Homo sapiens: one gene and its partners. The protein of the gene in region 1 interacts with the protein of each later gene in a biochemical or structural test. Each region holds a gene or a part of one and is shown in the gene's direction. Other genes may lie near its edges. The genes, in order: SRF, ZIC3, ELK1 and MYOG.

Region 1 (7,570 bases):
TACCAGGTGTCGGAGTCTGACAGCAGTGGGGAGACCAAGGTGTGTTTGGGTTGCCTATGTGAGAGGAGGGAAGGGAGTGGGGTCCCTCTCCCTTTCTGGCCCAGGACAGGTGGATAGGTGCCCACCGATGTGGAGTGGAGCCGGATTAACGACCCTCGTCCTAGGGGACAGGTGTCCATCCTCACTTTCCTGATAGAAGACCGCCCCCCTAGATAAGCGGGCGGCCTCCGTGCCCATATAAGGCCGGCTTGGGCTCCACGCCGGCCTCCCGCCCGCAGCCCGCCTGCCTGGCAGGGCCTTTGCATTCCTCCCGCCAGCTGTCTCCCCGCTAGGGGCGGGGGTGTAGTTTAGCCCGGCCCTCCGGGCTGGGTCGCCAGGGAGTAGAAAGGGAGCACTCCGGTCCCGGGGTCCTGGGAATCCAGCACTCTTGGCAGGCGGGCTGGTTGACTGGGCCGGGGACTACCTTACAAGCCAGCCGCTGCCCTTTCAGGGTGTTGGGGGCCTGGGCAGTTAGGGAGCGCATTTGCCTGCTGCTAGGGATGCCTGCGCTGTTACTCCTCCCCCTTCCTTTTCCCGGTAAGGAGAGGGGGTGGGGCTTCCTCCCTTGCTGTCTGGGGAGCTCCACCTTCCGGGTGGCACTTAACTGACTGGCCAATGGGAGGAAGCGGCACTGTTTGCCTTAGCAACGCCTCTGCCAATCAAGGGTCTTGGGCCCAGCTGCTTTGCAAACGTCTCGTGCTGACCCACCCCGCAGCCTTTGAGCCTCTGGTTGACTCATTTCGGGTCTGGGCTTGGTGGCTTGGTTCTCAGTTTCCTTCTTCCCCTTCTAAGAACGAAGTCTTCCTTAGGGGAGAGTCAGTGCTGTAGGCTACCTCCTCTCTTAGTGGCATATCATCTGTAATAATTTTTAAACTTTTATAACAGTAGGGCTCATTTATTCCCAGGAAATTTTGTTGGATGAGTACATTCTTTTGGTAGTTTACATCTTGGGTGTTTGACATATAGTGTGTCATTGCCAGATTCTCAAGATCTCTCTCAAACTCTTAAGTTCCCTGAGAAACTCAGTTCCTATCTCAGAAGCCTGACAAATTAGAGCTGGAAGAACTCTTTGAAAGAAAACGTAGTAGCCCAGCCCCCTCATGCTTATAGAAGAGGAAAACCGAGGTTCAGAAAAGGGGACTGGTTATTTCAGGGTCACTTAGATGGTCATTACCAGAGCTAGGAACAGACCTTGGTGTCCTGACTCCCCAGCCAATGGGATTACCACAGTCCGCTGGAGCAGAGAACTCAGGGGATTATAATAATGACAATGATAATAATTATCATAAGAGCAGCAAATATTTATTTTGGTTTTTTTATGTGCCAGGTAGTGTTTTCTAAGTGATTTACATATGCTAACCTACTTAATCCTTACAGCAACCTAGGGGGTAGGTATTATCCTCCTTTTACCGATAGAAAACTGTAGCTCAGTAGATCAATAACTTACCTAAGAGTCAGGCATCAGGTAAATGGTGGCGTTGGGATTTGAACCCAAGCTCACTGGTTTCAGTCTGGGTTCTCAGTCCACACAAAGCTTCTGCAAAGGCAGGATCTGGTAGGGGCTCATTGCTTCATCTTTACTCTGGGTATAGGACACACTGAAGCCGGCGTTCACAGTCACCAACCTGCCGGGTACAACCTCCACCATCCAAACAGCACCTAGCACCTCTACCACCATGCAAGTCAGCAGCGGCCCCTCCTTTCCCATCACCAACTACCTGGCACCAGTGTCTGCTAGTGTCAGCCCCAGTGCTGTCAGCAGTGCCAATGGGACTGTGCTGAAGAGTACAGGCAGCGGCCCTGTCTCCTCTGGGGGCCTTATGCAGCTGCCTACCAGCTTCACCCTCATGCCTGGTGAGTCACGAGGGGCAGGGAGAGATTCGTCCTTCCTGGGGCAAATCAAGCATGCTAAGAGTGTGTTTAGGGCTGGCACCAAGAGAACCTCTTTCCCTGCTCAGAAGGAAGGTGAATAGGGGCCAGAGCCTGAGCGAAGCCTCTTATATCCCGTTGGCAGGCATACCTCTGCCCACTGAGACCCCTGCTGTCCTTGTCAGTAAGTTTCAACCATATATTCTGGCCCTGTCTAGCTACCCCAGCCCCGTGCCCTCATTGCCACAGGGCAGTAGATGTTTCACCACTTCCTGCCTTGACTGGAAGGCAGATCATGTCTTTGATGGGTTATTGCCAGCTCTTGGGTCAACTGAAGAAAAGAGAGACAAGGCCCAGGGCAGGAGGAGGAGGGATGGGCAAGAGTAGAGCGTGGAAGCCCCCAGAGTGGATACTTGGGCCTGAAGGGCCTCTTTGGCTTCCAGGAAAGATAGTGATGGGAGTTGGAGACCAGTGTGCCAGACCCTGGGACTGGGGTGTCCATGGGTACTTGGTGGAGGTGGCAATTGGGTGGGACAGAGCACAAATAAGACTCTGTGTCTTGCAGGTGGGGCAGTGGCCCAGCAGGTCCCAGTGCAGGCCATTCAAGTGCACCAGGCCCCACAGCAAGCGTCTCCCTCCCGTGACAGCAGCACAGACCTCACGCAGACCTCCTCCAGCGGGACAGGTATAGCTCGCAGCCCTGTCACCCTCCCTCCCTGCCTTCCCCCACGAGGCCTAGCAGTAGGTGCCCAACAGTAACCCTCCTGTAACTAAAGTCAGGGGATTTCTTAAAGTGGAGATTGAGGCTTTGGGCCTAATAATTATGGGGAAGTCAGGTGAGGATGACTGGGTTTTGAATCCCGCCCTGCAGTGGGCTGCGGATTCCAGAAGAAAATTGGGGACCATTGACCTACCTCCTCATTCAGATGAGGAGCCTGAGGCCTAGAAATAAGAAGTTACTTGCTCAAAGACACATTTGCTTAATTATCAGGAAGGACTTAGAGAGCAATTTTCTCTTTGTGCGAGGGTCTTACAGGTTTTGAGTAGCCACAGTTACCCTCAGGTATCTCTAGACATTTCAGAAATGATGAGATACTCTCAAAGTAAGGTTAATTTTAAGTTCTTATTATTTATAACCTTTTTACTCAAAGTGTGGCCTATGGACTGGGAACACCAGCATTACCTGGGAGCTTGTTGGAAATACAGAATCTTGAGTCTCACCCCAAACCTAGTGAATCGGAGTCTGTTTTTTTTTTTTTTTTTGAGACGGAGTCTCGCTCTCTGTCGCCCAGGCTGGAGTGCAGTGGCACCATCTCGGCTCACTGCAAGCTCTGCCTCCCGGGTTCACGCTATTCTCCTGCCTCAGCCTCCCGAGTAGCTGGGACTACAGGTGCCCGCCACCACACCTGGCTAATTTTTTTGTATTTTTAGTAGAGACGGGGTTTCACCTTGTTAGCCAGGATGGTCTCGATCTCCTGACCTCGTGATCCGCCCACCTCGGCCTCTCAAAGTGCTGGGATTACAGGCCTGAGCCACCGCACCCGGCCCAGAGTCTGTGTTTTAACAAGATTCCCATATAATGCACGTTAACATTTGAGAAGTGCTTGTTTGAAAGATGAATTTGTTAGCTGTGCATTAAGAAGGAGAGAGAGGCCGGGTGCGGTGGCTCACGTCTGTAATCCCAGCGCTTTGGGAGGCCGAGGGGGGCAGATCACGAGGTCAGGAGATTGAGATCATCCTGGCTAACACGGTGAAACTCCATCTCTACTAAAAATTCAAAAAATTAGCCGGGCTTGATGGCAGGCATCTGTAGTCCCAGCTACTCGGGAGGCTGAGGCAGGAGAATGGCATGAGCCCAGGAGGCGGAGCTTGCAGTGAGCCAAGATCGCGCCACTGCACCCCAGCCTGGGTGACAGAGTGAGACTCCATCTCAAAAAAAAAAAAAAAAAGGAGGGAGAATGAGAACAAATAAAAAATAAGATGTTAGAGCTCCTAAAAGGGGAGTATCTGAGTTTTCTGAGAGTAGGTCAGTCATAATCTTTGTTTTTCCCAAGATTTAGGACTTAGAGAATTCAGTAGATAGACAATTGAATAAATAGTACAATGTGATAGGATACAATTAAAGATTGATGCTGTTGTGTTCAAGAAAAAATAGGCTTTTCTTAGTTGATGATGGAGCTGAGGAATAGTCGTGTCTAGCTTCTGACCTGGGAAATGGCAAGAGGGCTCTGGGGGCCTGGAATTCCTAGGGACGGAATGGGAGTTATCAGTGGGGACCAGTGCCGAGCTGACACATGTCTGTGTTTGCCAGTGACGCTGCCCGCCACCATCATGACGTCATCCGTGCCCACAACTGTGGGTGGCCACATGATGTACCCTAGCCCGCATGCGGTGATGTATGCCCCCACCTCGGGCCTGGGTGATGGCAGCCTCACCGTGCTGAATGCCTTCTCCCAGGCACCATCCACCATGCAGGTGTCACACAGCCAGGTCCAGGAGCCAGGTGAGTAGAGGAGCAGGGCTAAGGAAAGGAGGACCGTTTCCTTCTTTATACACACACACACACACACATACACACACATATGCACTGATGCCTACAAATATTTCTACCCAAATACAACACAGACTTGGATGCTCACACACACATTTGGACACCCCACTTGGACACTCACACCCGCATGCACCCTCAGACACACTGGCACCCTTTCCCTTGGGCTCTTACATCTGAGACTGCCCCAGTCACTTGTGCATTTGACACCACTCCTCCAATATCTGGAAGTTTCAACAAACAATTTGAGTATCTCCTGTGGTTTTCCAATGTAGGTGGCGTCCCCCAGGTGTTCCTGACAGCATCATCTGGGACAGTGCAGATCCCTGTTTCAGCAGTTCAGCTCCACCAGGTAGGTAGGGATATCTTTCACCCCATCCCAGATAGCCACTTCTTTGTCTTGACCTTAGGGGATCCTGTTACCAGTTCATCAAAGCCAAAATCCCTAGCCTGGAAGCCCATCTGCTTTTCTGCTCAGGCCTGTGGTTGGCAGGCAGGGAAGCCAGGGGAGCCTGAACTGGCTGGCCAGTCCCTGCCCCTCCTCATACATCCCCTTCCCTCCAGATGGCTGTGATAGGGCAGCAGGCCGGGAGCAGCAGCAACCTCACCGAGCTACAGGTGGTGAACCTGGACACCGCCCACAGCACCAAGAGTGAATGATCCGCCCGCCGCCCTGGACAGATGGCCCAAGGGATGGCACCACTTATTTATTGTTGCCTTTTCACGTTTTCTTTACACACACGTTGACGGGCCGCAGGAGGGAGGCGGGGAGGAGGAACGGGCAGCCACAGGACTGAGCCCTCTCACTCCAGCCAAAGAAATGGGCCTGCCTGCCTCCACCCGTCCTCCCTCAGCCTCCCCTTCTTCCCGCCCCACCTCCCATTTCTGTTGCTGGAGGGGCTGTCCTCCTTCCTGGGACCCCCTCGCCAGCTTGGCTCGATGTTTGCCATGAGTATTAGCTTACCCAATGGGACCGTGCCCCACCTCCCCACACACAGGCCTTCTGTGGGGCTGGGCACCGTGTCCTCCTCTGAGGAAGCAGTTGGGGCCCTCTTGCCAGCCTCCTTGCTGACCCCAGGTCAGCCCTGTGTCTGTCACAGGCTGGGTCAAAAGAGCCCTGGCTCTGCCCCTCAGGGGGCCAGCTGGGGAGATGGGGGCTTCTTCCTCACACTGCTGTCCTCTCCCCCTTCAGCTCCTGAGTAGCTGGGCCTGTGCACTGGGCAGGTTCCTGGGGCCGCCTGCCCTGCCTTGCCGCTCCCCTTGGACCTCCAGGGGCTCCTGGGTTGGAGGGAACCACCAGCGTTCCCTTCTCCCCCTTGTCTTCCCCCCTCTCCTCCCAGCTGCTTTACTTAAAGTTGATTTTGAACTTTTTATTTGAGGAGACGAAGTGAAAACAAATCTATAAATATATATTTTTAAAATATTTAACTTTTTTTTATGGCGTTTTTCTCGTCCCCCTCCCTGCCCAAACTCCCCTTCCCTGGGGAGCCCTCAGGCTCCCCAGAACTGGCTGGGCCCCTGGGGACAGAGCCACCCCATGAGCTCGGGGTCCACCAGTGTGTGGGGGAGATTCTGGGTTTGCCCAGTCCTGGGTTGTTTCCAGGAGAAAGCCGGGGGAGGGGCCCTCAGGCCATTCCCCAACGGGGTGGGGAGGGTGACCCACAGCTCTGGGCCTCTTTTTGCCCTTTAGGGCTGTTGCTAGGGAGAGGGAAGAGGGAGACCAAATGTCGGGGTTGGGGTGGGAGGGCGTCAGGCAGAGGCAACTGACTTCATTTGTGCCACACGCATGGGCATTGCAGCCTTGCGCTGTCCCAGGCATGCAGCTGCCTGGGGCCCAAGTTGCAGTGAGCAGGGTGGGGTCTGGGAGGGGGTGAGAGGCAGGAATGGGGGTCAGAAGAAGTGGGAGCAGCTTCTTGGGCTGAGTGCAGCCAAAGGGGAGCCAGAAATGGGCAGTTCTCCCAGGGAGTGAGCAGCTACTGTAACTTTTTTAAATTAAGACAAAAAGCCTTGAAGAAAATGACTTTATTTTTCTAAGTGTAACCTCAGTATTTATGTAATTTGTACAGGGGCCATGCCCCACCCCCCTCCTCCCCCTTTGGGGTAGACCTTGAGGGTGGGCCAGCATAGGGGGGAGGGTCTTTTACCCTGTGTCAGAGCCTACCTTCACCACCTATATCCAGAAGGGGAGCTTTTTCAGAAACAGGGCAGCAGTGGGGTGAAATTTTCTTAACCCCTAAGACTGCCTTCAGTAGGAACAAGCTGGCTTCTGTGATTAGGTGAAGGGATGGGGGAAGATTTTATGCACAGCCTAGTTATCAAGGGGATGATTTGCCGACATGTTTGAGAACCCCCTAACCTCTAACCCTCATTGCTGTCTTGCCCCAGTTTGGGGTGCCAAGATGGAAGTCACCTTTCTGGGCTTTCTCCTGGAGATAGCTGGGGCTTATGGGTGGCTTTCAAGGCTGGGGCATGGCAAATCAGGGGCCAGAGAGCAGGGGAGCTTGGGACTCAGGTCTGTAACTGCCCAGCCCCTTTTCTCTGCTCTTGTTTCACTCCACCATCACTCACTCACTCCCCACTCCCCCACCCATGGGGAGGAGACCTTTGATGAATTCTTCCTCTCCTTCCCACAAAAGACAGACCCAGTGAGTGAATCAGGCAAAGTGCTTATAATGTGTGTTGTGTGAGCGTGGCCTTGGGAGGACATGCGTGTGTCAGGGATGAGTTGAGGTGATATTTTTATGTGCAGCGACCCTTGGTGTTTCCCTTCCTCGGTGGCTCTGGGGTATGTGTGTGTGGGTGTGTGCGCCTGAGTGAGTGTGTGTGCTTGAATGTGAGTGTGTATGTCAGTGGTTTCTACTTCCCCTGGGATGCTGACCCAGGAATAGTGGACATGGTCACAGTCCTATGTACAGAGCTTTCTTTTGTATTAAAAAAAAATACTCTTTCAATAAATGTATCATTTTTGTGCACAGACTGTGGGGTCTTTGGTTCTGTTTTTCTACTTAGGGAGGGATGGGGGTATGAACGCGAGGCAAACTCCTAAAATTGCTGCTCTGAGTAGCGATCCGGGCTGCTTGATGAGAACGGTAATGCTAAGGTGTGCTTTGGGCT
Region 2 (7,874 bases), on another chromosome or scaffold:
CACAGCCCTGATTGACAAGTACAATGAAAATGTCTCATTCCTGTCTGGTTTGCATTTCATTACATTGGGTAACAATATGCCTTGTATTTCAGAGGACAAAGGCAAAAAAAAAAGGGGGGGGGTTAATTAACAATATCTGTTTATTCTCGATTGAATTTTAAAGGTATTTAGGGCTTATAAAATATGTGTCAAATGATAGGACCATAGTGAAAATTCTGATGTGGCCAATAAAATCTGGAGCTGTGTGATTTTACGCTCACCAACCTGCAGACACACTTGGTTGGCAAGTGTGTCAGCATGTCCTGGAGATCGATAGTTCAGCTTGGCCCCTGATGCCAATTAAGTGCTTTATCTTAGCATAAAAATAAAGAGAAGTTAAAAATGCATTCTTTTCCCAGCTTTCTTCCCCCTTCATTTTTTATTGCCACTTGCAGTTTTTCTTTTAAAAAGATCTGGGACTCTGAAGAGAGGGTGGGGATTTATGTAAAGAAAGTGTCATTTACCAGGAAAAAAGGCGAATAATGGTGAGTTTCAAGGACATGTTGCAATGAGAAACACTTTGTGCTCCACTAGGGAGAGACAGGGGCACCAAATTCAGCGTCCTGGAATAATTCCCTTCCTGGATTCAAAGATTCATTTATTGAAATAAATCAGGAAGCCTTGGCAGAACGGAAATCCGCTTGCTGGGTTTAAAGGGCCTTTAAAATGTTGCGAGTGTTAGATTGCAAGTCTTTTCTAAATACAAAACAGAAGAAAAGACCGCAGCGTTTCCCTTGAACTTAAAGAAAATTACTAGGTCACCGAATCAGGATAATTTCATGTCCACCACATAAAATGTGTTTAGAAAGAAATGCTGCATGATAACACAATGTGCTGTGTATGTTCTGTTTTTCGGAGGTTCGACGGAAGAGAAAAGTGCTGTGGAGTTGGGCTCTGGGTTGTAGGAAGAACCCGGTCCTACCCTACTGCCCCTCAGGACGTTCTGTTTCCCTACTGCTTCTTCAAGATGGATTCTAAAAATCGGGCTCAAAAGCTTTGCTGGTTTAGAAGTGATCAGTTTTTCTGATTTTATTTACTGCTTTAGATTTGGGCATAAAAATAAATCTTTTTCCTATTTACCGTTTGAACTCAGTGTGAGGGAAAGGATCCCATTATATTTCCTATCCATACAAACATGTGGATATTTAGACCCGACCACATACAACTTGGGGACACATAAAAGAGATTTATTGGTTAATTTACGTTGCCTACTACACATGTAAACCCTAGTAAGCCAAAGCTGCTGAGGGAGCCTCAGCTATAGAACCACGACCCCTGGGTTCGAGTTGTCCTCCCTGACTAGAGCTGTGACTCCTGTCTCCACCTGAAAAACGAAAACACGAGAGTTGTCTCCATCCCCTCACCTCTGCCTGTGTGTAGGAAAAACTTTTCTCCTCTTAGCTTTCCCTCTTCTGCCACCACTCTGTTCTCAGACTCAGCTCCCCAAAGCGCCCTGTTCCCCGAAGTTGTTCCCAGAGTCTCCTCTTGAAAATCAAGTTTGGGGAGGAGAGAAGCTCTAAGTCATAAGAAAAACTTCGCGATTTTTCCCCCCCAACAGCAGTGATTTGCTTTGTTGGGGGTGGGGACTTTGTTTTCATGTGCAGTAACTAGCTTTATCTGGAGGGATTTTGCTTTCTACCCTCTTTTAAGGGTCAGGGGTCCCCCTCCCCAAATAAGGAAACTCCCACTCAAACCAACTGAAACCGACTTAGAAATGGCCTGCCTCTGACCTGCTGTTCACAAAGCCCCCAGCCTCGTCCTTTTGCGCGCATCTGGGACCCCTGCGTCCCACAGAACAACGACACCCCCTCAGAACCGCACTCTCAGGATGGGCCCGGCTGTCCCGTGAAGGGCTCCATTGCCCGGGATTTTGGCCTGGCTGAATCGCCTCAGGTCTGCCCCCTTAACAAGCATCCACCCCCCCGGCCCCCACCTCCCCACTTCTCGGTTGATGATCTAATTGAATTATGCCTTTTTGTTCCAGGGACTACAGAGCACGTGCTGGAGGCAATTAATTATCGGAATGTGGCCGTATCAAAACGGACACTGGGCACCGGGTAGGTCAGCGGCGGCAACTTCCCCCTGCCTTGAGCTCAAGACCCCTTCCCAAATAGGGGCATGATGAGCTCCCTCGGCTGCCCCCCTTCTGAGCCCTTCACCCAGTTGCAATCGCGCAAGGCCCTCGATTCTCGGGGTACCTGGCGGGACTCCCCGGAAACTCTCGCATCAGCGCTGGCCCGGCCAGAGCTCGACAGCCGCCCCTTCCCGGTCCCCTAGTCTCGAGAACCGCTGTCCGCGGGACCAGCTCAGTGAGGAAATCCAAACTTTTTCAAACCAACTACTTAGCCAAGGGCGGTTGGGGTTGGTGGGAGGTGAAGAGAGGTAGAGGGAAGAGAGGAAATAAAGGAGAAAGTGAAAAGAAAGGTGGGGCGGGGGGGGGGGGGGGAAGAAAGGCAATCCTCCTTTTTTGTAAACCTGACTCCAGGGGATTCATTTGCATGATTTAAGCATATTTGTTCTCTGAACACACCAGCGCCCCCCTACCCCCCCAAAGAAACCCTCTGCTGAGAGGCACTGAAACCATTCTTGGAGAGCCTATGTTCGGCAGACGCAATAATTTAAGTCAGCAGTGAACTCACCTTCCAACCTGGGGAGAGAGCTCTGGATGTGGAGAGAGAATTGGGGCGAGTTTGATGGGAGGGGGTGAATACGGTAAGATGTGCTACCGGTAGGGTGTTCTCCCAGCAAACTGGCTAAGAAAGAAGGTGAAGTGTTGGCTGGGCCAGGCAGACTGGGGAGCAGGAAGTGAAAGGCTGCAGTTATAAAGCGCTGCTTAAGGCGGTCTCTCCTGGCGCCTCTGAACTTGATCAGATGTTCTATTTCCTACAGAGAGATGGCGGCCAGGCTGTGAGGCTGCCTCAAGGCGCAGACTTTGGGGCTTGGCCCAGCTAGGGATGTGACAATCACAGCCATCTTTCTCTCTGCCTTTTCTTTCCACTCTCTTCTGCATTCTTTGCAAATGCCTTGCAGGACACAAAAATGAGTGAATTTATAGCCTTGTCTGAACCTGGTCATTATGTCAGAAAGACCTTGCAACAGACAGAAGGCGAGAGGACTTTCACACACACCCCTGGAAGTAAATCCTTAAGGGGTAAGCAGTCCCTGAGGTCACTACATGCTTTACCTTCTCCGGGTAGGAGTAGAAGAGAGTAAAGCCTTGGCTGTTCAGAGGAAAGAAAATTCCATGTCACAGTCCCCATTCAGCATCAGCAACCCCCAACACGACTTTTGCATTTGAAAATGTTGAGAATTCAAAGCTGATTAGCCTAGTGATTTGGAAACCACCCTGATACTGTGTGTGTCTAGTGTGTTTATTATGTGTTTAGTGTGTTGTGTGCATGTTTTGCGTACACTGGCTAAAAGTGTTCTTTGCATGTTTTGTATTTGTGGGTATGCTCGCTGTTATGTGTATTTGCTCTGTTGTGTTTAGTTGTGTTTCTGTGTTTGCTGTGTTGTGCGTAGTTTATGTTACTGTGTTGTATGTGCTTACTTTGTTGTGTTGTGTGCGTATTTCATATGTCGTGTTTGTTTCCTGTGGTGCGCTTGTGTTTACTGTGTTGTGTGCTTGTTTCCTACTGTGTGCTTGGGTTTACTGCGTTGTATATGTTTGCTGTGTCGTGCCCGGTGTGTAATTCGGGAAGTGGGCAGCGGCGAGTACGGCCGCTGCTCACAAACTAAAGGGTCAACGCTTGGCGCAGACGGAAGTAACGGAGATCAGCTCTAATTGTAATCGTTTCTTCTCCTTTGGGTCTCGGACAGCTGCCGACAGGTTGGGGGCACAAACGGCGAACTATCCCGGCCTGGGTCCCGGCCTCGAGGCCATCAGAACTCGCAGTGATTGGAGGTGGACGCAGCGGCTGGACCGGGAGCGCGAAACTGCTGCGCTCTCCCCAGGATCTGCGCCCTGCAGCTACAGAGGGGACATGTTCTCAAGGTGGTGAGGCAGCGGGGGCCCAAGCAGGACTGGACGTTGAGCGCCGCGTCTCCTCCATCGGCGCAGCAGTGGGACCGATCCTCGCGGGGCAAAGAGCCCGCGAGGGGTGGGGGAAAGCCCGCGAGAGTCCCGGCGGCGTCCCGCCGTTTGCCGGCTGGAGCCTGGCCCCAGTTCCCCGCAGCCACTCAAGCCCGGTGGAGCCCACTCGCGGCCGCCCGGCAGCCGCCGCCTCACCTGCCAGGCACCCGGCGGCTGCCCAATCAGCGGGGGTCGCTCGGCCGCGGCTGCCATGTTCTCCGCTCCGCGCTGCCAATCAGCCTCGCGGCGGCCAATGGGCAGTCCGGCCGGAGGTCAGGTGACCGCGGGCCAGCTGGCTCCCCATTGGCGCGCGCCTCGCGGCCTCCCGCTCGGTTTATGTGCGAGGAGTGAGTGATTGACTTTATCAGTCCAAGGACATTACTCTGGAGGCGAAGAGGCTGGGACTCGCGCGGCGAGCGGCAAGCGGCGAGTAACGAGCCTGCCTACTGCCCGCTGCCCGCCTGCCCGGCCGCTAGCCGGCTCCGCCACTTGGCGCAGCCCAGCCCGGAGGCCGGTACCCAGGGAGCCTCCTGGCCCCGCGGTTCTGTGCACTCGGGGAGAGGAGGGGTGCCCGGGACAGGATTGGCAAACTCCGCCCTCCACTTACTATTTTGCTTATTTTTCTTTGTGCGCGCCTGTTAGTTTGTTAAACCAGATCTAGTCCGAGTCTTTTCTCCTCCCTTCTCCTCCCTCCTCCTCCCCCCGCCAACACCCCCTCCCTGCTCTTTCTTCCCCTCCTCCCTCCTATCCCTCTGCAGGAGACTCTTGCAGTGACGGAAAGTTGCAGCCCCTGGTAGCGCCTTGGGGGTCTCCCCGCAGTGTCCAACCGCCGCCACCCCTTTCCGACTACGGCACTTCGGAGATCTCCTCCTTCGCCGGTACCCTCTCTCACTTCGGCCGGATCGCCTGTGCCCAGAACGTCCCACCCATGACGATGCTCCTGGACGGAGGCCCGCAGTTCCCTGGGCTGGGAGTGGGCAGCTTCGGCGCGCCGCGCCACCACGAGATGCCCAACCGTGAGCCGGCAGGCATGGGGCTGAATCCCTTCGGGGACTCAACCCACGCCGCCGCCGCCGCCGCCGCCGCCGCTGCCTTCAAGCTGAGCCCTGCCGCGGCGCACGATCTATCTTCAGGCCAGAGCTCGGCTTTCACGCCGCAGGGTTCGGGCTACGCCAACGCCCTGGGCCACCATCACCACCACCATCACCATCATCACCACACCAGCCAGGTGCCCAGCTACGGTGGCGCTGCCTCTGCCGCCTTCAACTCAACGCGCGAGTTTCTGTTCCGCCAGCGCAGCTCCGGGCTCAGTGAGGCGGCCTCGGGTGGCGGGCAGCACGGGCTCTTCGCCGGCTCGGCGAGCAGCCTGCATGCTCCAGCTGGCATCCCCGAGCCCCCTAGCTACTTGCTGTTTCCCGGGCTGCATGAGCAGGGCGCTGGGCACCCGTCGCCCACAGGGCACGTGGACAACAACCAGGTCCACCTGGGGCTGCGTGGGGAGCTGTTCGGCCGTGCTGACCCATACCGCCCAGTGGCCAGCCCGCGCACGGACCCCTACGCGGCCGGCGCTCAGTTTCCTAACTACAGCCCCATGAACATGAACATGGGAGTGAACGTGGCGGCCCACCACGGGCCCGGCGCCTTCTTCCGTTATATGCGGCAGCCTATCAAGCAGGAGCTGTCGTGCAAGTGGATCGACGAGGCTCAGCTGAGCCGGCCCAAGAAGAGCTGCGACCGGACCTTCAGCACCATGCATGAGCTGGTGACACATGTCACCATGGAGCATGTGGGGGGCCCGGAGCAGAACAACCACGTCTGCTACTGGGAGGAGTGCCCCCGGGAGGGCAAGTCTTTCAAGGCGAAGTACAAACTGGTCAACCACATCCGAGTGCACACGGGCGAGAAGCCCTTCCCATGCCCCTTCCCGGGCTGCGGGAAGATCTTTGCCCGTTCTGAGAACCTCAAGATCCACAAGAGGACCCACACAGGTAAGGGAAAAAAGCAGGCGGGCGTGGGTTCCACTGGCGATACCCCGTCACGCAGCGGACTTAGAGCGCGAGGGAGAGAGGTGGCGGCCAGGGAAAGGGGCGACGCCCCGCAACGGCCGCTCGAAAAAGAAGCGCTGTCAGTGACCATCCACCCCTAGCCCTCCCCGTCCCGTGGCGCCTTTGCCGAGTTCTAACTTCCCGGGCAGACTGCTCTGCGGTCTCAGGAACTAATTGGGACCTTCTCGCGCCCAGGAACAAACTGGCGCCGCCTCTTTTTGTCTCCCTTTCTGGGTTACCGTGAAGGGACTCCGAATGTGTTGAGAGCATATTGCTTACAAGCGACTTAGCTCTCGGCACACATTCGTGGAAGGCAACCATACAAATGCTAATGAAAACTAACTTTCGGTTACTTCCGCTTTTTTTTACACTTGATTGGCACATCTCCTAATTAAATGACTGATACTTTTGTCAAACTATTTTTATTTGGAGTTCCAGGTTCAATTCAGTCCTCCGGGAGGAAAGCTAAAGCAGTTTCGTGGTTTGTTCAGAACATCTTGTAAAACTGTCTGGAGCCCCCTGGATCGATCGATCTATCTATCTATCTATCTATCTATCTATCTATCTATCTATCTATATTTTTTTCCTCAAACATTAACTACGACTACCCAGGCTTTTTAATATCGGGCTTAGCCAAACCGCTGCATTTGAAAGAGGCAAATAAAAAGGTACAAAGAGGCTGAACGGGATTGTCCTGTCCGGGGCCCATTGTCCCGCCGGGCTCGGTTACATTGCTGAGGTGGTGGCGGAACGTGGCCGCGCATTGGGAGCCCTGGGTCGGGTAGGGTGGAAACACAACTTAGGGGAAACTTCGGAGGAGCCAGGGGCTTTCCCTCCTTGCAAGAACAAAGACATGGTCAGGTTTTGGGCCGGCCCCGCCCCACCCCCACCCCCACCCCGACCACCACTCCCAAACCCAGCGGGCTCAACCTACGCTCTTCATTTCTCTCCAGGGAAAATAGATGCAGCAGCAGCCCCCAGTCCGCGCTCCCTTTCCGGGAAGACCGCCGGGAGCTCAGTCTCCTGCTGCTTGCCTCTGAGAAACTCCGGCGCTGACCGTATTTTACCCCCCTTGGGTTTTTGCCTTTTGCAGGTGAGAAACCTTTCAAATGTGAATTTGAAGGCTGTGACAGACGCTTTGCCAACAGCAGCGACCGTAAGAAGCACATGCATGTGCATACCTCGGACAAGCCCTATATCTGCAAAGTGTGCGACAAGTCCTACACGCACCCGAGCTCCCTGCGCAAACACATGAAGGTAATTACCTCTTTATTAGCGGTCGGCGGTTTGTAAACACTCGGCCCGACGCCGGGCCGCGGAACGGAAGCGCCCGCGCTGCCAACCCTCTGTCTTCCACGTTAAATCCGATTTGCTCCAGCAGTGACACCTTGAACCCATTTTGGGGACCGGGCGGGGGTGGGGGTGAGGGGGTGGGCGGGAGTGAGCAAAGTTGGGAGGGGGAGGAAGCGGAGGGAACAATCGGTTGTTTACTGGGAAGCTCTAGCCGAGCTCGCCTGGGCTTGCGGGGCTGCCGTGGCCGCCTCTTCCCGACTCAGCCCGCGGTGGGAACCGAGAGTAGCCGCGCCGAACCCGAGGGTGGGTGGTTCATTCGCTCTTTGGCTTCGGATAAAACAATAGGGCCGAGGAGTGCAATCTGATTCCCACACATTTGTCTGCGACTTCGCAGCGCTCAGGGCCCCTGTGCCACCTTCTCTGTA
Region 3 (6,113 bases), on another chromosome or scaffold:
TTAAAATTTATCAGTTTTTAACCCATCCATTGGTACCCTAAGACCAGTATTGGGCCCCTAAACACTATCTCACCTACTTTCTTGTCTTACTGCTTTGGCGAAAACCACCACTGCATTATTAATACTGACTCTTTCTACTCCCACTCTGAGATCCCCAAAGTGATGCTGCCCTGCCATGCACAACGTTTCATTTTCCTGCCGTATTCCTATAGCCAACATCTTGAAAACACGGTTAATAATGGCTGGTCCTCATTCTGTCCTCTGAAACCCCTGGACCAGTGCTGGGCTTCCCTAGTTATTTCATAGTCTTCTCTTATTCCAGAATATTTCATATTCCTAGAATCAAAACCTCCCTGACAGTATTATACCAACTTTTGCTTACTTCGTCCTCTGGGACTCCCAACATTTTTAACTAATTATTTTCTTCTCTTATTCCTTAAGCTAAAACCTCTGAAACAACATGTTTAATGCCAACTTCCACACACTGTCTTCTTAAATTCCCAGAGGAGCACTGGTCTACCCCAATATTTATATCAATTGTTTTCATTATCTTATTCCTACAGCTAAAATTTAAAATTTCCCCCATCCTGCCCTCTCAGACCCCCAGGCCACTGCTGGGTTTCTCCTCCCCCCAATATTTATACCAGTTATTTCATTTTCTTAATCCTTCTACTGAAATTTCCCAAACAATATTCATGAATATCCCTTTTTATTCCTCTTCCGAGAAACACAGGCCCACCCTGTGACATATCTGACCAGCACTAAGACTTCCACAGAATGCCCTAGTGCCTCCACACTCCCAGAACTGCCCTGGTCATATGCTGCACACCCTTCATAGTTTATGGCATTTATTCCATTTTCATATTTTATTCCTTGAGCTCAACCCTCCAGAACAATATTAGTAATGAGGCTATCTCACTCTGCCCTCTGGGAACACTAGGTCATCTCTGAGACCCACCAGACCTGAAAAACCCCAAACATGCTCTGTGACCCAGCAAAGCCAGCCTTGATATAGGCCCCCTCCCAATATTTATACCAGTATTTTTAATATTCTTGTCTAATTGCTGTTAGTTACTTCATTTTCTTACCATTTTAGCTTCAACCTCCACAGTGGTATTAATAATGAGGCCTCCTCACCCTCTCCTCTGCAGTGACCTTGCCCTGTTCCACTTCTGTATCATTAGCTTCAAATAATCCTCTGTATTAATAATTCATCACCCCATCCATCTACATTAATTTACTTTCTTCCAACATTTATATCAGTTACTTCATTTTCTTGTCTTATTGCATTTGCTAGTCTCCAAAACTGTGTCCTGACAGTCACCCACAAGGCCTGGCCCTGTGAACCTCTGGTTCTTGGAGCCAGGAAGAAGACCTGCTCCCACACCTACTGCCCTTCATGGGCCCCATTGTGAAGAGGAGCTACAGTGTGGAGGGAGTGGGAAAATCAGATAGACGGACCTGGAGAGTGACAAAGGGAGGCTTGGAAAGGGGTGGATGGGAAGGGGCTTAAAGAAAAAATTATTGTGGAGAGAAGAGAGAAAGGGGAGGAACTGGGGAGGGATATAGATAAGGGGAATCTGGCGGGAGAGGAAAGAGGTAGAAACCAATGGGAGAGGAAATGGGCTGAGAGAGAAACTTACAGAGGAGGGACGGGAAAGCCGGAGAGGAGCAAGTGGGAAGAAAGCCACTAGGAGAAGAGAAATGCCACTCCACCCCCCTCCTCCCCCCTGACACCCTGCCTCCAGCCTGCCCCTTTCCTCTAAGGCCCTCTGTTCCTCTCCTCCCTTCCTAGAACATCATCCGCAAGGTGAGCGGCCAGAAGTTCGTCTACAAGTTTGTGTCCTACCCTGAGGTCGCAGGGTGCTCCACTGAGGACTGCCCGCCCCAGCCAGAGGTGTCTGTTACCTCCACCATGCCAAATGTGGCCCCTGCTGCTATACATGCCGCCCCAGGGGACACTGTCTCTGGAAAGCCAGGCACACCCAAGGGTGCAGGAATGGCAGGCCCAGGCGGTTTGGCACGCAGCAGCCGGAACGAGTACATGCGCTCGGGCCTCTATTCCACCTTCACCATCCAGTCTCTGCAGCCGCAGCCACCCCCTCATCCTCGGCCTGCTGTGGTGCTCCCCAGTGCAGCTCCTGCAGGGGCAGCAGCGCCCCCCTCGGGGAGCAGGAGCACCAGTCCAAGCCCCTTGGAGGCCTGTCTGGAGGCTGAAGAGGCCGGCTTGCCTCTGCAGGTAAGGACTGGAATATAGAAATTCAGTAAGAGGAGGCAGTAAAGAGGAGGGATGTGTAATCCCCGGATGACGAGGGAGGCTGGTAGAAGAGACATAGCTGTCCCGTTAAAGGAGATAATGGTGGAAGGAAGACATCCTCTTAGAAGGAGGGGTGGGGCAGAGAGCTACACAAATCCTGAGACAGAAAGGGGAGAATACTGTGCTACAGTTAGTAGCTGCCGAACATGTAGGTGCCTGGAATATGTTTAATGCACTGGTTCTCGCACTCTAGTGCTCATCAGAATCACCTGTAGGTCTTGTTAAACCACAGATTGCCAGGCACACCCCCAGAGTTTCTGAATTTGTGGGGCTGGGGAGGGGCCCAATAATTTGCATTTTTAACTTGTTACCAAATGAGGCAGATATTGCTGGTCCAGAGGAAGGTAAATTTTTGAGAACCACTGTTTTAATGAATGAGGATGGTATCCCTCAGATTCCTACCCGCTTCAGGTTGTCTCACCCCAAGTCCCCTGTCCCATAGGAGGACCTGCCCCAGAGGAAGCCCTACTTCCTTGACGAAGTCCTATGTCCTGTTGGAGGACTTGCTCTGATGTGCAGTCATGCCCTGAGTACCAAGTGCCACCTTCCCGGGGAAATCACTGGGTGGCCCACAGGAGAATCCTGTGGTCCCAACAATCCTTACACACCCTCTTTGTGCCTGCTCCTCTACCAGGTCATCCTGACCCCGCCCGAGGCCCCAAACCTGAAATCGGAAGAGCTTAATGTGGAGCCGGGTTTGGGCCGGGCTTTGCCCCCAGAAGTGAAAGTAGAAGGGCCCAAGGAAGAGTTGGAAGTTGCGGGGGAGAGAGGGTTTGTGCCAGAAACCACCAAGGCCGAGCCAGAAGTCCCTCCACAGGAGGGCGTGCCAGCCCGGCTGCCCGCGGTTGTTATGGACACCGCAGGGCAGGCGGGCGGCCATGCGGCTTCCAGCCCTGAGATCTCCCAGCCGCAGAAGGGCCGGAAGCCCCGGGACCTAGAGCTTCCACTCAGCCCGAGCCTGCTAGGTGGGCCGGGACCCGAACGGACCCCAGGATCGGGAAGTGGCTCCGGCCTCCAGGCTCCGGGGCCGGCGCTGACCCCATCCCTGCTTCCTACGCATACATTGGTGAGTGCCTGCGGAGGGGTGGGGTGTGTGGGCGCCAGCACCAATGGGATTGGCATGTGGCGGGTGACTGACAGGAATCAGAGGAGGGTGAGTGTGGTTGTTCCTGAAGAGGGTGGAGCCTTTGAGTGTGATTGACTGGGCTGATGCTGGCTGGAGGGATGGGGTTTGATTAGTGAAGGGCAGGGCTGGGGACTTTTGTGGGTGGGACCGAGGGTCTTTCTGTGGGACTGTTTCTAGGTTGGGGTGTGGCTTAAGGAACCTGAGCAGGGCTTTTTGGTCTGGGATGTGCATATGGGGTTTCATGGGTGGGACATGAGTTGGAAGTTGACCCTGAGCTGTTGGGATGGTGACTTGAGAGGTTTGAGAGCAGCATTTGGATAGGGTCTTGTGGGTGGTCTTGACCAATGAGGTCTCAGCAACTGAGGGTGGGCTCTCGGGAGTGGGGAGTGGGGGGTGTCTGCAGAGTTTGAGAGATCATAGGCATGGCCTCCATGGTTACCATCTAGGTGTGTGCACTTTGGGGAGTGACCCTGGGAGTGTGAGTGGGAAATCTGTGGTGGGGCCGGGACCAAGTCCCTTCCAGCATCCCACATCTACTTTCTACTCACTTGAGCTCCGACCACCCTCTCCCCACAGACCCCGGTGCTGCTGACACCCAGCTCGCTGCCTCCTAGCATTCACTTCTGGAGCACCCTGAGTCCCATTGCGCCCCGTAGCCCGGCCAAGCTCTCCTTCCAGGTAGGATCCTCTTTCCCCGTTTTGGACAGGGTGAGAGACCCAAGAATGGCCCCCATCTGTGACCTCTCCCTCTTTTTGCCCCCAGTTTCCATCCAGTGGCAGCGCCCAGGTGCACATCCCTTCTATCAGCGTGGATGGCCTCTCGACCCCCGTGGTGCTCTCCCCAGGGCCCCAGAAGCCATGACTACTACCACCACCACCACCACCCCTTCTGGGGTCACTCCATCCATGCTCTCTCCAGCCAGCCATCTCAAGGAGAAACATAGTTCAACTGAAAGACTCATGCTCTGATTGTGGTGGGGTGGGGATCCTTGGGAAGAATTACTCCCAAGAGTAACTCTCATTATCTCCTCCACAGAAAACACACAGCTTCCACAACTTCTCTGTTTTCTGTCAGTCCCCCAGTGGCCGCCCTTACACGTCTCCTACTTCAATGGTAGGGGCGGTTTATTTATTTATTTTTTGAAGGCCACTGGGAGGAGCCTGACCTAACCTTTTAGGGTGGTTAGGACATCTCCCCCACCTCCCCACTTTTTTCCCCAAGACAAGACAATCGAGGTCTGGCTTGAGAACGACCTTTCTTTCTTTATTTCTCAGCCTGCCCTTGGGGAGATGAGGGAGCCCTGTCTGCGTTTTTGGATGTGAGTAGAAGAGTTAGTTTGTTTTGTTTTATTATTCCTGGCCATACTCAGGGGTCCAGGAAGAATTTGTACCATTTAATGGGTTGGGAGTCTTGGCCAAGGAAGAATCACACCCTTGGAATAGAAATTTCCACCTCCCCAACCTTTCTCTCAGACAGCTTATCCTTTTCAACCAACTTTTTGGCCAGGGAGGAATGTCCCTTTTGTTCTTCCCCCTGAGAAGCCATTCCTTTGTCTGCCAACCTCCCTGGGGTCCTGCCTGTTTCCTCCCAATGGAGGGTTTTTTTGGGGGGTGGTCCCCGTCTGGGGGGCCCCTCCAGCCAGTACTCCAGGTCTCCCTGTCTCTCCCCCGCTGCCATTTTGATAGTATAATCTATTTTTAAATGGGGCTTTTCAATAGGGGAGAGGGAGTCATCTCTTCCTATATTTGGTGGGGTGGGTGGGAAGGAAGGGATTTGGGGGGGAATCTTCCTGCCGCCTCCCCCACTCCAAGTGTTTATTTTTGATACCAAACATGAATTTTCAGTTCCCTCCCTCCCAGCCCCCCAATTTCCTGCGGGCGGGTACAAAGGACCCTTTCAATGTCCCTGGAGTTGGGAGGGAGGAATGGGGGACATAAAGCCTGTCCTGTCTCTATTCTAGGCAAGAGAGAGTGGGTTCAAAAGACTCCTGGGCTCACCTGTTAGCGCTGGCCCAGCCCAGGCCTTGGGACCTGGGGGTTGGTGATTTGGGGGACAGTGCTACACTCGTCTCCACTGTTTGTTTTACTTCCCCAAAATGGACCTTTTTTTTTTCTAAAGAGTCCCAGAGAATGGGGAATTGTTCCTGTAAATATATATTTTTCAAAGTGATGCTGGAGGCTGCTGGCACTTTTTCTCTGATGTTGTCAGGACTAGCTGAGCGTGACACGCATGACTGTGTGTGGAGGGTGTGAGGCAGAGGTCGATTGTGAGAGAAACGGTGTGATGGCGTGTGTGAGAAACAATAGTAGGGACTGCATATCGGTAACCATGTGTGTGTCAGAGACGTGGAAAGCTGTGATTGTGTGTGAGAGTGTGCAGAAGTTGTGACCACAGACTTTTGATGGTGTGTCTATGTGGGAAATTGTGGCTGTGTTTCAGAAAATAACTGAGCCTGGATGAATAGTCAAGGTACTGTACAAGAACCTGTGATGGTATGCACAAAATAATGTCTACGAGAAGGGAACGGGGACTGCAGCCCTGTCACTGTTTGATGGCGAGCAAGACAGACTGGGTGACCAAAACCACATGTGAGAGACTACGTGGGCATGAAACTACAGTAGAGGTTGTCAGGGATTGTGGCAAAGATTGTGTAGGTGACAAACCTCACT
Region 4 (7,676 bases), on another chromosome or scaffold:
CTCTGGGCCTCCATTTCCCCATATGTGGAGGAAGAAGGTGGACTAGTGGATTCTAGACTGCCTTGCAGCTCTGACTTTCTGTGATTCTGTGATCTGTTCTCATCTTGCTGCAAAGCTACTGCCCCACAAATAATCAATGCTGATTTGCATGTAATTTTTATGCATCTATGTCCTATTGAAATGCACAAGCATTTGCCACCCCCCCCCACCCCCCCCCACCCCCGACCTCATCCTCATCAATAATACCCAGAGACCCAGCCTAGGAAAATATATGGTGAGACCTGTTTGGAGCAGCCAGAGGCCCCCACCCTTCCAGACCCTTCTCCTTCTTGCTCCTCTATTCCCAAGCACATGAGAATCCAGAATGGAAAAATTGCTTTGATTTTAGCCAAGCACCATGGCAGCCCAGGTCAGCCCACCTGCAAAATCAGCAGGGACTAGAAGATGCTGAAGGCCAGAGGGCTGTGACTGGGTGTGCAGCAGAAGGGGTAGTAAGGAGCAGGGAGCAGGTGAAGGGGATTTCTGAGCATTTTGAAATCCAGCCGCTACCATGCAAATGACATCAGCCCAGCGTGCAAATAGACAGAATCAAGTTGAAACAGTCAGGGTTGGGGAGCCAACAATGTGGCCCTGGAGCCCCAGTAGGGGATAAGGGCTTCCTCTGGAGGGCGCAGGACTGCTGGAGGAGGAGGCTACAGTCAGGGCAGGGGGCCCTGTGTGCCCAAGCCAGCAGGGATGGGGATTAGGGCCGGACGCCCTGCTGTCAGGTTGGAGCTGATGGATTGCCGCTGGTGGCGGAGCACAAAGGCTGTTCTGTGCTTGGCACCAATGTGTTCCCATCCATCAGAGGGCAGCTTGTGGGGGTGGAGGGGTGTACAAGGGGAGGAGGACCAAGCCTCTAGATGAGGCGTCTCCACAGCTCGGCTCTGAGAGAAGAACAAGATGGGTACAGGGCCAATCCCCCCCATCAGGGTATGGACAGGTCAAAGACACCTGGGTCACTCTATCAGCTCAGACCAAGAGGGTCTGTGCCCCACATCGGGCTTTGACGTGGTCCCCAAACCACTGTACTCAGACATACACAAACACACACAGAGACAGGGATTCACAGAAACCAGGCACACAAGGTCACCCTAACCTCCCGGCTCTGCCCTCATGTTTGGTCAGAGGCAAACATCATCCAGACACAAGGCCAAATGCATGCCCAACAGAGCTTCTGCAGGCAAGCGCCGAGTCTAGGCACTGCTCTTGCCCCAGGTCAGGTCCCAGCCAGGGAACTGACACAGAGTGGGTTCTCAGTAAATATGTGTTGAGCAGATGAAGGAGTGAATTAATAAATTCCTTCTCTGGATTACGTCAGCACTTTCTCTAGCCTGCTGTTTCTACCTTGGTTAGATGACTTTGTGTACTCATTCTCCTTACTCATCAGTGAACATGCTGAAGGCAGAGAGGGCATGTCTTAGTAACCCCAGCACCTGGCACAAGGTGCTGAATGCACAGTACTTGATAGAAAAAAAAATGAATGAATGAATAAACACATTCGGGGTGGAGCCAGGTTTTCCCTCCTCCATTCCTGCTGCTGTGGTCCCCTGCAGGGCACACAGAAGTAGAAGAGAAGACAAAGCAAGAAAAGGGAATAACATTTACCAGGTGTATCCATGTGCCAAGTACCCTATCATTTAATACAGCCATTCCCCTATTGCTTGCATACTCGCCATCCTTTGCTAGCCTGAAACATGCACCCTCTCCCAGTCGAATCCATCCTCCTGCCTCTGAAGAGGTTGTTCAGACCTTCATCATCTCATTCCTGGATGACCATCACACTGTTCTGTGCGGTCTCCTTGCCTCAGCTCTCAAGTCCTTCCCTGCCCAGCTGGGCCTCCTCCCCTCTGTGCAAGTTTGTCTCAAATCACCCCCTTACCTGAACCCCAAGCTCCATACAAACAGCCTACCCAACGTCCCCTTCCCCTGCTCCCCTCTCCTCATCTGAATCCTACCAGTTCTCCAAGAGCTGGCCCAGCATGCTCCCCAAGCCTTCTGCAGAGCACCAGTCTTCAGCAGTTTTGGCTTCCCAAAAATTCCCAAAACGCTTTTGAAGAAACTACTGGTTTGCAATTGATTAAAGCCCCCATGTTTGCTGTAGAATCAACATAGCTCTCCCTTGTCTTGTAATCCAGCTTTCACATGTCAACCCATGCTCACCAACTAGACAGTAAGGTCTGGAAACCACCATAGAGCAAGCCAGCTCTGCCTCCATTTTAGAGGAAGAAGACACATTATTTAGAGGTAAGTCACACTGGATCCTGGAATAACAAAAGATGCAAATATGGGGGTTCCTATAGTGGCTTCAACATGACTTCTTTTCTCAGGGCTCATAGGACTGGAGGGTAAACTGAGGCTTTTTTTTTCTTTTTTGTTTGGCAGGGGATGTGTTAGAAATAGAGACTCTTCTTCAGCCCAGCTGGTCAGGGGAAAGCAAAGTTTAGAACCCACACAGTACCTATGCTGCTACTTTTTTTTTTTTTTTTTTTTTTTTTTTTTGAGGCAGAGTCTCGCTGTGTCACCCAGACTGGAGTACAGTGGTGCGAACTCGGCTCACTGCAACCTCCTCCTCCTGAGTTCAAGTAATTCCCTGCCTCAGCCTCCCAAGTAGCTGGGATTACAGTGCCCACCACCATGCCTGGCTAATTTTTGTATTTTTAGTAGAGACAGGGTTTCACCATCTTGGCCAGGCTGGTCTTGAACTCCTGACCTCGTGATCCACCCGCCTTGGCCTCCCAAAGTGCTAGGACTACAGGCATGAGCCACCACGCCCGGCCTATGCTGCTACTTTCTATCATGCTGGTAAGGCCAAGAACAGAATTAAGACCTCACTGCTCTCCCTCAACATGCTTAGGGTTCTTTTGTTGTCCAGCTATGTTCCCTCCTTCCCTCCATTTCCTGTCCCAAAAGGACATCAGAATTCTCCTGGCTCCCTGCTGTGAATAATGAGAGGAAGGAACACTGGTTCTTCACATGCCTCGCAGATCTCATGTTCCCTGTGAAGTCTCCCATGAGTCCCCAGCAGGGTTCCCCTTCCTCTTATTGTCCTTGCCACTGGCTTGAACTTGTCAGTTTGATCTGTCGTAGGATAAGGAGCAGGACATTAGTCTATGGGGAGGAAAAAACTGGGAACAAAGGATAAAAGATAGAGGGAGCAGATTGCAGCCCAAAGCTACACGTCAATGGAACGGGCTGTCTCCTGACGTGAGCAGAAGCTGAACAGTAGCCGCCTCGGAGGAGATTTGGGCATCAGGGGCTAGGTAGAAAGAGGTGATCACCGTTGTCTATCAGATGGTAAGTTCGAGGGCAGGGATCCTGTCTGGGGTGTCCCTATAATCCCCAGCCCTAAGACTGAGCCTTGTTCACTGCTAGTGTCTAAGGTCTGCCCACTGCATTGGAAGGAATTTGTCCTCTCAGACCCTGAGGCACCTACTGAGAGGTGACCATGGCCTGAGAGGCCTGAAGATTAAATAGTCCCTGCTCTACCTGACATTTGAGACCTGCATGATACGTGTAAAATTGATGGCTCAGACAGTAAGAGGCAGAACAACCAAGCCCGGTGGCCAAGGAGAGAGGAGATTTAAACTGAGTTTGAAGGGCTCTGTTTTTTCTACTTTTTCACCCCCGTCCACATTAATGAGCCAGGAAAATTCTGGTGTTGGAAAAAGAGTTGAGGAGGTAACATAGAAGGACAGATCAATGGTCCGGAGTGAGACAGGGAGGAGACAGGGAGCTTAGGACATCTTGACCTTGCCGCTCTGGGGAAGGTGGCAACGTGTAGGCTGTAAATTCTAATCTCTGCTCTGACCACGGCTGCTGTATTAAAGAGGAAATTTCTCTTTACCCCTGCCAAGAAAACCAAAACCCAAATAATTTCTCTTGCCTCAATTTACCCCCCCAGATGAGACCTAAGAGAACATACAGCTCAAAGCTGCTTGGGAACCCCAAAAGTGGAATCTGTTAGCTGCTCTGAGTCTTGATCCTTCTTATCCCTGGATACTGAGTGCCCATGAATGCCCAGAATCTGAAGCAGTCCCATTCTTTCCGGAGGGAAGTCTTTAAAAGAGTCTCATCGACTGATGTAGTGTGGTTAAGGTGCTGTCAGGAAGCAAGGAGATGGATAAGTTGGCTCTTAAGGCCCCTTCCAGCCTAAGCCTACCCTTCCTTGTTCCCTCCTCCCCCTATACCCACCAGCTTCTTCGGGACTGCAAGGAGACAGCAGGCAGGCCGCCCAGCTAGGAGTAATTGAAAGGAGCAGATGAGAGGGGAATGTGTCCTCCCCCAACGCCCCTGCCCCACAGGGGCTGCTGAGAAATGAAAACTAATCAAATTACACCCGACGGCCTCCCGACCCGTGCACAGGAGCCCGCCTGGGCCAGGGGCAGGCTGGCAGGGTGGGGTGGGGGCCATGCGGGAGAAAGAAGGGGAATCACATCTAATCCACTGTAAACGCCTTGATGTGCAGCAACAGCTTAGAGGGGGCTCAGGTTTCTGTGGCGTTGGCTATATTTATCTCTGGTTCCATGCCAGCGGGGAGGGTTTAAATGGCACCCAGCAGTTGGCGTGAGGGGCTGCTGGAGCTTGGGGGCTGGTGGCAGGAACAAGCCTTTTCCGACCCCATGGAGCTGTATGAGACATCCCCCTACTTCTACCAGGAACCCCGCTTCTATGATGGGGAAAACTACCTGCCTGTCCACCTCCAGGGCTTCGAACCACCAGGCTACGAGCGGACGGAGCTCACCCTGAGCCCCGAGGCCCCAGGGCCCCTTGAGGACAAGGGGCTGGGGACCCCCGAGCACTGTCCAGGCCAGTGCCTGCCGTGGGCGTGTAAGGTGTGTAAGAGGAAGTCGGTGTCCGTGGACCGGCGGCGGGCGGCCACACTGAGGGAGAAGCGCAGGCTCAAGAAGGTGAATGAGGCCTTCGAGGCCCTGAAGAGAAGCACCCTGCTCAACCCCAACCAGCGGCTGCCCAAGGTGGAGATCCTGCGCAGTGCCATCCAGTACATCGAGCGCCTCCAGGCCCTGCTCAGCTCCCTCAACCAGGAGGAGCGTGACCTCCGCTACCGGGGCGGGGGCGGGCCCCAGCCAGGGGTAAGTGGCCATCCCATCCCCCTGCCCCAAGGGGACGGGGCCAGAGGGAGGCACCTGGACAGCCTCAAGACCCCAAGAGGGGCTCAGAGGGTTGGTGCAGGTGCCAGACAGGGTCGAGGGGCTGCAGGAGCCCTTCCCTGGTCAGAGCTGGGCTATCCAGCTGACCTCCTGTGTCCTGTGTTCTTTCCAGACAAGATAAAGGCAGTGGGGAGGAAGTGCAGAAGGGGTTGGGGTGGGGAACATAGGACTGAAGAAAGATCAGGAGCAAGGCCACAGTCAGCCCAGGTGAGGGTGAGGATTAATCCCAGCGCCTGAGTCAGAGCCTAAAAGGCCAGGCCAAGTTCACCAGAGAAGACTGCTTTGCCCCCATCCTGGGTGTGGCTGAGCAGAGAGAAAACCCACTCAGTCTCATTGGAACTCCAGCAGGCCTGCACAGAGCGACCTTCACTGGGCCACAAAATCTGTCTCCATCACCCTTATCGCCAGAGTCAGGAGAACCAGGGACCCCTTTAAGCTGGTGTCCTGTGAGAGCAGAACCACCACCCAGGATGGAAGCCAGGAAGGCCTGGAAGCAGGGCCTCTGGGGTGTGAGAGGAGCTAGTTACAAAGATTCTGGGGTTGGGGATGGCCTGGGCTGGAAGGCCACAGCCTGTGGCCCACCCTCCAACCCCACCACAGGTACTTCTGCCCACTGGGACTAGGCAGAGAGAGACATCAAAGAATGGCTGTGCCCCGACCTTGGGCCTTCGCCCTGTCTTGCAGGTGCCCAGCGAATGCAGCTCTCACAGCGCCTCCTGCAGTCCAGAGTGGGGCAGTGCACTGGAGTTCAGCGCCAACCCAGGGGGTAAGTAAGGCCTGACTGGTAACCTTGGCTCCAATCCCTCAGTCCCTCCCTGGGCCAGGTTCTCCCCTCTTACCTTATTCCTTGCTCCGGTCCTCTTCCCTTGGGTCTCTCTAGGGACCTGCTGACTCCAAGGCCCAAAGGGTGGGCTGGGAGGTTCTGTGTGCCCCTGCAGTCTTGACCAGCAAAGGAGTGATAGTAGCTCCTGCAGCTCCCCAGCTGATGCCTGGTGGTTGACCTTCTCCACAGAGAGGACAATGTCCCTGCCCCAGGGGTCCCTGTGAAGTGCTGAGTCAGTGCTGCAAAACTGGGCCGAGCAAAGGGCAGGTCCAGTCTCTGGGGAGCTCCATCCTGCTCCAACTTGAGTGGCTGCTTCCAAACCCTACCTACTAGGGGAGTTCAGAAAAGAGGCGCATACACACACACACACACACACACACACACACACACACACTCACAGAGCATGGGGAAAGGCAGGGACTAGGGAGTAGAACTCCGGAGCTTTGTCATTCATCTGTCCTGGAAAACCTCTGTCACCCCAAGGGTCCCATCCTCTATTCTGGGCCTCAAGAACCCCCACTGCTCACCCAGGTACCACCTTCCCACCTCCCCTTACAGATCATCTGCTCACGGCTGACCCTACAGATGCCCACAACCTGCACTCCCTCACCTCCATCGTGGACAGCATCACAGTGGAAGATGTGTCTGTGGCCTTCCCAGATGAAACCATGCCCAACTGAGATTGTCTTCCAAGCCGGGCATCCTTGCGAGCCCCCCAAGCTGGCCACAGATGCCACTACTTCTGTAGCAGGGGCCTCCTAAGCCAGGCTGCCCTGATGCTAGGAAGCCAGCTCTGGGGTGCCATAGGCCAGACTATCCCCTTCCTCATCCATGTAAGGTTAACCCACCCCCCAGCAAGGGACTGGACGCCCTCATTCAGCTGCCTCCTTAGAGGAGAGGGCATCCCCTTTCCAGGGAGGTAAAGCAGGGGACCAGAGCGCCCCCTCGTGTATGCCCCAGCTCAGGGGGCAAACTCAGGAGCTTCCTTTTTATCATAACGCGGCCTCTAATTCCACCCCCCAAGTGAAACGGTTTGAGAGACGCAGTGCCCTGACCTGGACAAGCTGTGCACGTCTCCTGTTCTGGTCTCTTCCCGATGCCAGTGGCTGGGCTGGGCCTGCCCTGAATTGAGAGAGAAGAAGGGGAGAGGAACAGCCCTCTGTTCCCAAGTCCCTGGGGGGCCAAACTTTTGCAGTGAATATTGGGAACCTTCCAGTGGTTTTATGTTTTGTTTTGTTTCGTGTGTTGTTTGTAAAGCTGCCATCCGACCAAGGTCTCCTGTGCTGAAGTTGCCGGGGACAGGCAGGGAAAAGGGGTTGGGGCCTCTTGGGGGTGATTTCTTTTGTTAACAAAGCATTGTGTGGTTTTGCCATTGTTTTGTATTTTTTTTTTTTTTTTTTTTTTTTGCTAACTTATTTGGATTTCCTTTTTTAAAAAATGAATAAAGACTGGTTGCCAGAAGAGTGTCGGTGATGATGCAGAGGGAGGGAAATGACTGACAGCCCTGCCCCTTCCCACTGAGCAGTCCAGACACACCCTAGTGGGTGGGGCTCCACAGCGCTAAGGGCCTCATCTTGCTGGTGGTCACTAGGCACTGGGGACCCCTGCTCTTTTCACCATGATAAAGGAAATCGAGCATGTCT

The links.
Region 2: the proteins of SRF (region 1) and ZIC3 form a complex in vitro, tested with the Homo sapiens proteins (one study listed by BioGRID).
Region 3: the proteins of SRF (region 1) and ELK1 form a complex in vitro, tested with the Homo sapiens proteins (2 studies listed by BioGRID).
Region 4: the proteins of SRF (region 1) and MYOG form a complex in vitro, tested with the Homo sapiens proteins (2 studies listed by BioGRID and IntAct).

Annotation. Positions count from the first base shown.
Region 1 is NC_000006.12:43,174,075-43,181,644, forward strand, and holds the end of SRF (serum response factor), read left to right. Parts: coding exon 1-39; intron 40-1,631; coding exon 1,632-1,893; intron 1,894-2,473; coding exon 2,474-2,593; intron 2,594-4,219; coding exon 4,220-4,411; intron 4,412-4,731; coding exon 4,732-4,808; intron 4,809-5,020; coding exon 5,021-5,116; 3' UTR 5,117-7,432; downstream 7,433-7,570. UniProt on the Homo sapiens protein: SRF is a transcription factor that binds to the serum response element (SRE), a short sequence of dyad symmetry located 300 bp to the 5' of the site of transcription initiation of some genes (such as FOS).
Region 2 is NC_000023.11:137,561,653-137,569,526, forward strand, and holds the start of ZIC3 (zinc finger protein ZIC 3), read left to right. Parts: upstream 1-4,474; 5' UTR 4,475-5,039; coding exon 5,040-6,099; intron 6,100-7,249; coding exon 7,250-7,413; intron 7,414-7,874. UniProt on the Homo sapiens protein: Acts as a transcriptional activator. Required in the earliest stages in both axial midline development and left-right (LR) asymmetry specification. Binds to the minimal GLI-consensus sequence 5'-GGGTGGTC-3'.
Region 3 is NC_000023.11:47,635,021-47,641,133, reverse strand, and holds the end of ELK1 (ETS domain-containing protein Elk-1), read left to right. Parts: intron 1-1,795; coding exon 1,796-2,239; intron 2,240-2,951; coding exon 2,952-3,383; intron 3,384-4,019; coding exon 4,020-4,121; intron 4,122-4,206; coding exon 4,207-4,305; 3' UTR 4,306-5,613; downstream 5,614-6,113. UniProt on the Homo sapiens protein: Transcription factor that binds to purine-rich DNA sequences. Forms a ternary complex with SRF and the ETS and SRF motifs of the serum response element (SRE) on the promoter region of immediate early genes such as FOS and IER2.
Region 4 is NC_000001.11:203,082,947-203,090,622, reverse strand, and holds MYOG (myogenin), read left to right. Parts: upstream 1-4,610; 5' UTR 4,611-4,661; coding exon 4,662-5,132; intron 5,133-5,894; coding exon 5,895-5,976; intron 5,977-6,049; exon of another isoform or gene 6,050-6,251; intron 6,252-6,591; coding exon 6,592-6,713; 3' UTR 6,714-7,494; downstream 7,495-7,676. UniProt on the Homo sapiens protein: Acts as a transcriptional activator that promotes transcription of muscle-specific target genes and plays a role in muscle differentiation, cell cycle exit and muscle atrophy.